Linked DNA regions of Homo sapiens. The protein of the gene in region 2 purifies or fractionates together with the protein of the main gene of each other region. This does not show direct contact. Each region holds a gene or a part of one and is shown on either strand. Other genes may lie near its edges.

Region 1 (3,650 bases), on a different chromosome or scaffold from region 2:
GTGTGTTGCGGGGAGCAAAGCAGGGATGGGTGTTAGAGATAGAATGTAAAGAAGAGAGAGAAAGAGATGGGAGAGGCAGAGAAAGGTAAACAGGAAGAGTGAACAGTGGGAGAGGCAGAGCCAGGGAGGGAGAAGATGGGAAGAGAGAGGCAGAAACTTGGTAGGGTCTGCCCTGGGCAAGTGGTGAAGGCCCCTGTAAGTGCCAGAGGCAGGGGGATGGGGGTACCCAGGCAGGGTCCCCTCCCCCAGGGAGACACTTTGGTGCAGAGAGGGGCCAGGTCAGGAAGCTGTCAAGGAAACGCTGGTCCCCACCTGCAGAAACGGCCGTGGGAACAGGGAGCAGAGGGACACACACGGCAGTGGGACGGGAGGAGCAGAAAAGAGGATTGCGGGGGTAAGGGAGGCTTCAGGCGAGCGCGCTGTCTGCGAGGTGGCCCGGGCACAGGGCTTGGTGCACGGTGGGTTTTTAGACAGAACTGGAGAAGGGATGGCAAGAGGGAGAAAGAGGAACAGAAGGAGGAGGAAGACCACACCAGAATTACCTGATCAAGTGATAGCTGTGAGATGCCAGAGTGCAGCAGAGAGAGGGGGAGGGGGAGAGAGGAGGGACATGCGCCGATCAGAGCAGGATGGGACAGAGAGAGAACATCAGTCAAGAATAAAATCCCAGCCCCTTGGTTCCTGGCTGGGTGGGGGCCCCAGGCTGGCCCTAGACCCTCCCTGGGACCAACCACACCTCCCCACTGCGAGCACACCCCAGCTATCTTGCTGAGGGCTGGTGGGAACCCATGCCCTGGCTAACAGATGAGCAGGCCAGCCCGGTGAGGAGCTGAAATTCACCTAAGCCCACATAGCCACCCAAGGCAGAGCTTGGCTCTGGGATCCCAGCTGCATGTTCATTCCAGAAGTCACCCAGCCTCTGTCTGAGGGAGGATGGGGCCACCGGAGTCCGTCCTTCTTCCCTGGTCAGGCCTGCTCCTGGCTGAGGCCCAGGGCTCAGGAGAGGGTTCACCTGGCTGGGGTGGGGGCTGGGCCTGCTGCAGGGTAGGGACAGCCACGGAAGTGGTCAGATCCTACTCACTTCTGGAGCACGAAGATGCCCACGATGAGGGTGAAGGAGACCAGGTCGGCAGTGACCCACATGAGACAGTACTCGTCCGGGGGCTGTGGACAGACGGCCCGAGGCCAACTTCCAGTCATGGCCAGTCCAGACTGAGGCTCCAGACTGAGGGTCCGTGGACCAAAGGACCCCACATGGCCACTGGGGAAGGGCAAGGGAGGACCCTGAGAGGGTCTGGGGGCTGAAGATGACATTTTGCAGGTGTAGGCTCCAGGCGCTGTGGGCCTGGGGGCCGGGGCGTGTGTGTGCACACGTGTGCACTCTCAGGGTAGGAGGGGACTGTATGGTGCTCAGGGCAGAGGGGTTGTGTGCTAGGCCTGCAGGGTCTGTGTGTCTAGGGTCCTCAAAGCAGGAGCCAGATACTGAAAGACAATGGCTTTGCCGCCCCCCGCTGCCGACTCTCATCCATCGGTCTCGACCCTTTCCCCAGGCTGCCTTCCCTTCACCCTCCTCTCCCATAGAACCATCCACAGCTTAGGTCTGATTCATTGGCACTGCATTCTCTCAGCCATAAGGATACCCTCCACCTGCCTTCTGCATGCTCAGGGTGACAGTGGAGCCACCACCTATCTGCAGGTGCCCAGTCAACCAGCTAAAATATTGCTTTATTTGCTGTTCTCTGAGCAGATTTTAATTGTTTCCTATTCTTTTTTATTTTTATTTTTTGAGACAGGATCTCACTTTGTCATCCAGGCTGGAGTGATCACAGCTCACTGCAGCTTTGACCTGCTGGGCTCAAGCAATCCTCCCACTTCAGCCTACCGAGTAGCTAGGACTACAGGCGTGTGCCACCTTGGCCAGCAAATTAATTAATTATTATTATTTTTTTTTGTAGAGACAGGGTTGCCCAGGTTAGTCTTGTACCCCTGGGCTCCAGTGATCATCCTGCCTCTGCTTCCCAAAATGCTGGGATTATAGGCGTGAGCCCCACGCCCGGTCAATGCTTCCTATTCCTGTCCTTGTTACCCTCCAAAGCAAAGAAACCCAAGCAGCTCTTTACTTCTTTAGAGCCCTTAGTGATGCTTTTCTCCCTGTGGATGAGGCCCAGGGTCCTCCCAGCACCTTAGTGCAGATCCCAGATGCCATGAAACCCTCATGCCTCAAGCCTGCACGCCCACCATGGACTCCCCACCATGCTAGAGACCTCCCAGGGACAGCTCCAAGCACAGAGCTTGCCGAGTGGTCAGGGCAGGCTATAGGCAGCTCCAGCACTGCCCCCCAGGGGCCCTCTGCCCCCCAACTCACCATGATCCAGAGGGGGGAAGGCACCTGGGACAGGGCGTGGGAGTTGTCAGAGGTGACGGATGGGACCCCCGCACACCACAGCAGGGAGAAGAGCCACGGTGCGTTGACTGTGTAGAGGTTCACACTCAGGTTCCAGGACGCGTAGTCCCTGTGGGGCAGGGGAGAGGCAGGTCAGCATGCGGACCCTGGCAGCTCCAGGCCCAGTGTCGGGGCTGGTAAAGCACGTCCTGTTCACGACCTCACAGCCATGCCCGGGGCAAGGAACATTGGCTCCAGAGGGCCAAGCTCCGGGACAAGCCCGGGTCTGCCCGACACGCTCACCCTCTTGTCTTTGAACCATGTGTGCCTGATTCCTCTGTGTGCCCATCCCTCTGCCCGACCGTGTGTGTGTGTGTGTGTGTGTGTGTTGGGGGGTGGTGGTGGCAGGACTGGGAGAGACTCAGTCCCACCCTCTCCTGGAGGAGCCCAGGGCAGGGCAGGCACCTGAGCTCCTGGCGGGACACCTGAGTGTAGCGCAGGTTCAGCCGCTGGATGTGGCCTCTCCGCAGGCTGGCGACTGCCTCCTTGGAGCCTGATGTCTGTTGGAAGCCGGGAGCCACCTTCCGCACCAGGGGCCTCTGCCTGCTAGGCAGCCACATGACCTGCAGGCAGAAGAGAGGCAGCCTCAGACTTCTCTTCTGCACGATGCGTAAGAGTACCTACTCCTCCTAGAGCACCTGTGGGGTTAAGAGACAGGACCTGGCAGGCGGTGAAAGCTTAGATGAAGTCATTAGCAGGGCAGGACTCAGTCCCAGCCAAGGCTGCAAAGTGCACTGGCAGCAACTCAGGAAACTTCGCTTCTGGCCTGCTGTCAGTACGGGAGGGAAAACCCAAACAGCCACTACTCTGCACATGGCCACTAGCACCTAGTGTGCCGTCCTAAACTGATGTCAGATTTCTCTGGTCCCAGATTATTACACCAAACGACAGGGCAACACTTCACTGAAATAACTTGACCGCCTGGACCTTTATACATTTTAAAGTGTTTTCTTGTTCCCCTCTTGTCCCATGATGACCCTGCCAGGGAAGTGAGCAGTGTGTGATCCCCATTTTACAAATGGGAAAGCTGAAGTCCGGAGTGCAACAGGGAAAGGCTATGCAGCAGCAGGGCTCTAGCCAGGCCAGGGCTCCCGGGGGCAGAGCTGCGTTGCAGGGCCTCACCTGGTGCTGGGGGAAGCCGGAGTGCAGCACGGCCTCCAGAGTCACGTTGATAAAACTGCTGCGGTAGGGGTGCTCCCGGGGCGGG
Region 2 (3,750 bases):
AAGGCCACAAAACTCATAAGCAACAGTGCTGAGATGTGAACCCCAACAGGTGAGCTCCAGAATCCCACACTTTTGATGTCTTTGCTATGTGTTTTCTCTGCTAAGGAAAAGCCAGGCACTCCTTCATTGTGAAGAGGAAAGTGCCAACACAGAATTCTGAGAGAGTCGAAGAGGAGGAGGCTCATGTATAAGTCCCTCCTCCCTTGGACACTCAGCTGAGGGTCAGGAAGGACCACTCCCAGCCCAGCATTGGCCAAACCACTCTGGGGTGCAGGGTCTCTTGGCAGGCTGCTCCGGCCTCCACCCAGCCCTGAAATCATGGACAGGCAGCACCTGTCCATCTCCTGCCTCCACGGGATTCTCTGTCACATTTGAAAATGAAAACAATGCCAGGCATCCCCTGCCCTTCTCCGTAGATTCTCCCCACACCAGGAGAAATGCCTGAATCACACTCGAGGATTTACATGGGGTTGTCCAGGATTCCTGTGAGCAGTGGACCTGCTGCCTGGCTTTCCTCTATTCATCCTTTGCTGCTGCCAGACACAAGCAAAGAAGGAGCTAAGGTCCCATCTGCCACCTCAGTTTCATTCATAATCTAGAGGGAGTCAGGCAACATGGGTGTTCAAACCCCAATTCTGTCATGGACCAGCTGGGCAATCTCAAGCAAATTACTTAACCTCTCTGAGCCTCAGTAGACTATCTGTTCAATAATAGTACTTACCTTCCAAGAATGCTGTGATGGGATAATGCATAATGATGCTCTCATGTGTACACCCTCCCTCTCTCCCAGTCTCTGCTGGTTTCTGGCTGCCTCCAAGACTCTTCCTATAAGACCCTCAATTCCCCTCTCCTTCATGCTCCAGGGACACACTCCGTCTGTGCTCCTGTCACAGGTTTCTGGCCCCGCAATCATGAAATGAGTTATTCAGGCACCTTCCAGCCTGAAAACCTTGTTCACCAGGACTCCCAGCCTGCCTCGTCTTGTCTGCTCCAGGCTGAGGCGGGAGCCCTCTGCCGGAGGACAGCCACTCTGCCTGGAACATCTCTGCACTATCAGCTGCCAGGCAAGCGGACACCTCAGAGGGATCAGGGAATCAGGAGGGAAGAGGTGGGATCTTCATGGAGGACTGGGGGCTGGGGGTGGGGTAACAGAGCAGGAGACGTGACTTCCTTGAGGAGCTGCTGTACTCCAGCTCCTGCTCCTGGCTTCCTGGGCTCCTTCGAGAAAAACTGAGAGCAACTTCTAGAATCTGATCTCTGAAAGAGCAGCCCCGATGCTTTTCTGTCACCAGAATCCACTCCCTGGCCATAATATCCACTCATTTTCCCAAAGCATCCTCCTCTCTCGGTACAACGAGGAGGAGGTGATCCGCCTCTTGCTCCACACCCCCAGCTGCAGCCGAACTGCAGGGGAAGGGCGGGTGGTGGTCCGGACAGTTCCCACCCCCGACTCCAGGTGACGCTGAGCCTGGGGCTTACCTCAGTGTATTCAAGTGATTTGGATCAGGATGACTCCGAGCAAAACCCTGACTCTCTCCCCTTAACCAGCTGATGCTCCTGGGCACAACTTCCCTCCCCGAGCCTCAGTTTCCTCCTCTGTAAAATGAGTATAACAATATTGCAACAGATAATGGATGCCCAAAGCCTGGCACAGTGAACGCACTCAACCAATGGGCTGGCACTACGGTTAGCAGCGAACTCAGACCCTGGGGAGGCTCAAAGAAAACGAGGCTCCCCCTCTGCTCGCCCGAGCTCAAAGACGGACGCTCAGGGCGCGCACCCTGCCCAAGCCCGGGGAAGCTAAAGGTGTCTGCGCGTCGAGTGCTGAGGCCACAGTGTGGAGAGGGGAGCGGTGCCACCGAGCGAGCCGCCCTCCGCCACCCTCCCCAGGCCACCCGCGTCGCGAGGGTACCCAAGCGCGCTCTTCTCAAGCGGGCGGCTCCGGGGTTCCCGGCCGCCCTGCCGGGATGCCCGGAACCCAGCCTGGCCAGCGCGCAGCCTCGCCCAGCCGCGGCGGCCCCGCTCCCGCCCAAGCCCGCGCCCCGCTGCGACTCACCGGCGCCGGCTCCGGGGAAAGTTTGGTGGCGCGTTGGCCGCGGCGGCCAGGCTGCTGGGTGTCGCGGGGGCGGCGGCGGGGGCGCCGGGGAGCTCTCGGGGAGCGGGGCGCCGGAGGAGGAGCCGCTCCGAGGGGCCCACCCGCGAGCAGCGGGGAAGGCGGGGACCCGGGCCCCGCGGGCCTGCAGCGCCCCCGCACCCGGTTCCACGCGCCCAGGGCCGCCCCCGCGGAGAGAGGGGGCGCGAGGGGCGCGCCTCTCGCTCGGACACCCTCTCCCAGCTCGCGCCCCAGGTTTGGAGCTGCTCCCGCTGGGTACCCGGGCTCGGGCTCTGCGAGGCGGACTGCTCCTTGGGTTTGGAAGGAGGGGTGGCAGAAGGGTCAGAACCTTGGTGAGACAACTCCACCCCCACCCACGCACCTGCGGGCACACAAAACGACAGACAGAGATAAATCAAGACAAAGAGGCACAGATGGAAATAGAGATGAAACGATGTTTGGCAGAGTCAATCACAGATAGATTGAAAAAGACAAATAGTGATACCTGCGCCCCTCATTCCTGCTAGGGGCGCCAAAATCGAAAAAGGCAAAGTCAGACAGAGGTGGAACAAGATTGACAGTAGGAACCCTACCCCTAGAGGTTTCGGGGAACTAAAGAGACCCCAGGGTCTACAACCTCACACCTCTCTTCTGTTTCTCCCTAGCCCGTCCTGATGAATGAGCCCACATTTCAAAATAGGATGTGTTTTAATTAGCAACCTGTGCCACCCCGAGCAGCAAGGGGAGGAGTGGGGTGGGGGTGAGGCCCCTCTGCAGGTCCCCGGGAACCTCTGTCCCTGGCAATGGGAGCTTGAGGATTCTTCCTGGCTGCCTTCATTTCCAGAGCTGGGAGAGAGAGGTCGAGGTTTTTCTGCCTTCTCAGCGCCGGGAAAACTCCATTTGAACCTTTGAACAGTTATGGTTTCAGATTTTACCCCAGCAGTTTCGAAGGGACCACCTAAGCTCACAGGGAGAGGAGGGTGTTTGAGGAGGTGGGACATGGTGGGTTGGGGTGTGGGGGTGGGGGTCAGAGGGGTATTTTAGCCTCCTCCCAGTAGCAGCAGTCCCACCAGCCCTGGTTGTGGACCACACAGAGCTGGGTCTGAGGCTCAGCTTCACAAGCTGTGTATGGTAGGTCCATGGTCCTTTTTCTTGGCCTCAGGGCCCATGTCGGTAACACAAGGGTTCATAAAGACAGGGGCCATTGTGTCAGATGCTTTTCTAAGTGCTACAGATGCTTACTCATTTAATCCTCACAACAATAATAGGTCCTAGTAGGTAGGAACTATTATTATCCCTATTTTACAGGTGAGAAAATGAAGGCACAGAGAGATTGAGTAACTTGCACAAGGTCACATGTAGGAGAACTGAGCATCCACCCTACTCAGCCTGGCCCCAAGGTCCAAGGTGCTGTTATAACTTCATCTCCGTGGGGCTGTTGGAAAGTTTCATGATGCCATTTCTATAAAGGGCTTAGTGCTCCATAAATGGTAGCTCAGAGATCACTGATCCCATCTGCAAGGTGGGGATTAAAGGACTTTGTGATGCCCAGTGATATGAGACTTTGGCCTTGAGATAATGGCAGGCCATGTCACTGTCCTGGGCATTATGGATTCGAGAAGTCAGGGATGTCCCATTTGTTTTTCTGGCCAGCCCTC

The links. Proteins that work in one complex are often made in the same cells at the same time.
Region 1: the proteins of HRH1 (region 2) and GDPD5 purify together in Homo sapiens (co-immunoprecipitation; one large-scale study listed by IntAct). This does not show direct contact.

The regions. Positions count from the first base shown.
Region 1 is NC_000011.10:75,438,798-75,442,447, forward strand, and holds part of GDPD5 (glycerophosphodiester phosphodiesterase domain-containing protein 5), read right to left. Parts: coding exon 3,566-3,650; intron 3,007-3,565; coding exon 2,849-3,006; intron 2,514-2,848; coding exon 2,366-2,513; intron 1,165-2,365; coding exon 1,082-1,164; intron 1-1,081. UniProt on the Homo sapiens protein: Glycerophosphodiester phosphodiesterase that promotes neurite formation and drives spinal motor neuron differentiation.
Region 2 is NC_000003.12:11,152,861-11,156,610, reverse strand, and holds the start of HRH1 (histamine H1 receptor), read right to left. Parts: upstream 2,119-3,750; 5' UTR 2,057-2,118; intron 1,866-2,056; exon of another isoform or gene 1,480-1,865; intron 1-1,479. UniProt on the Homo sapiens protein: G-protein-coupled receptor for histamine, a biogenic amine that functions as an immune modulator and a neurotransmitter.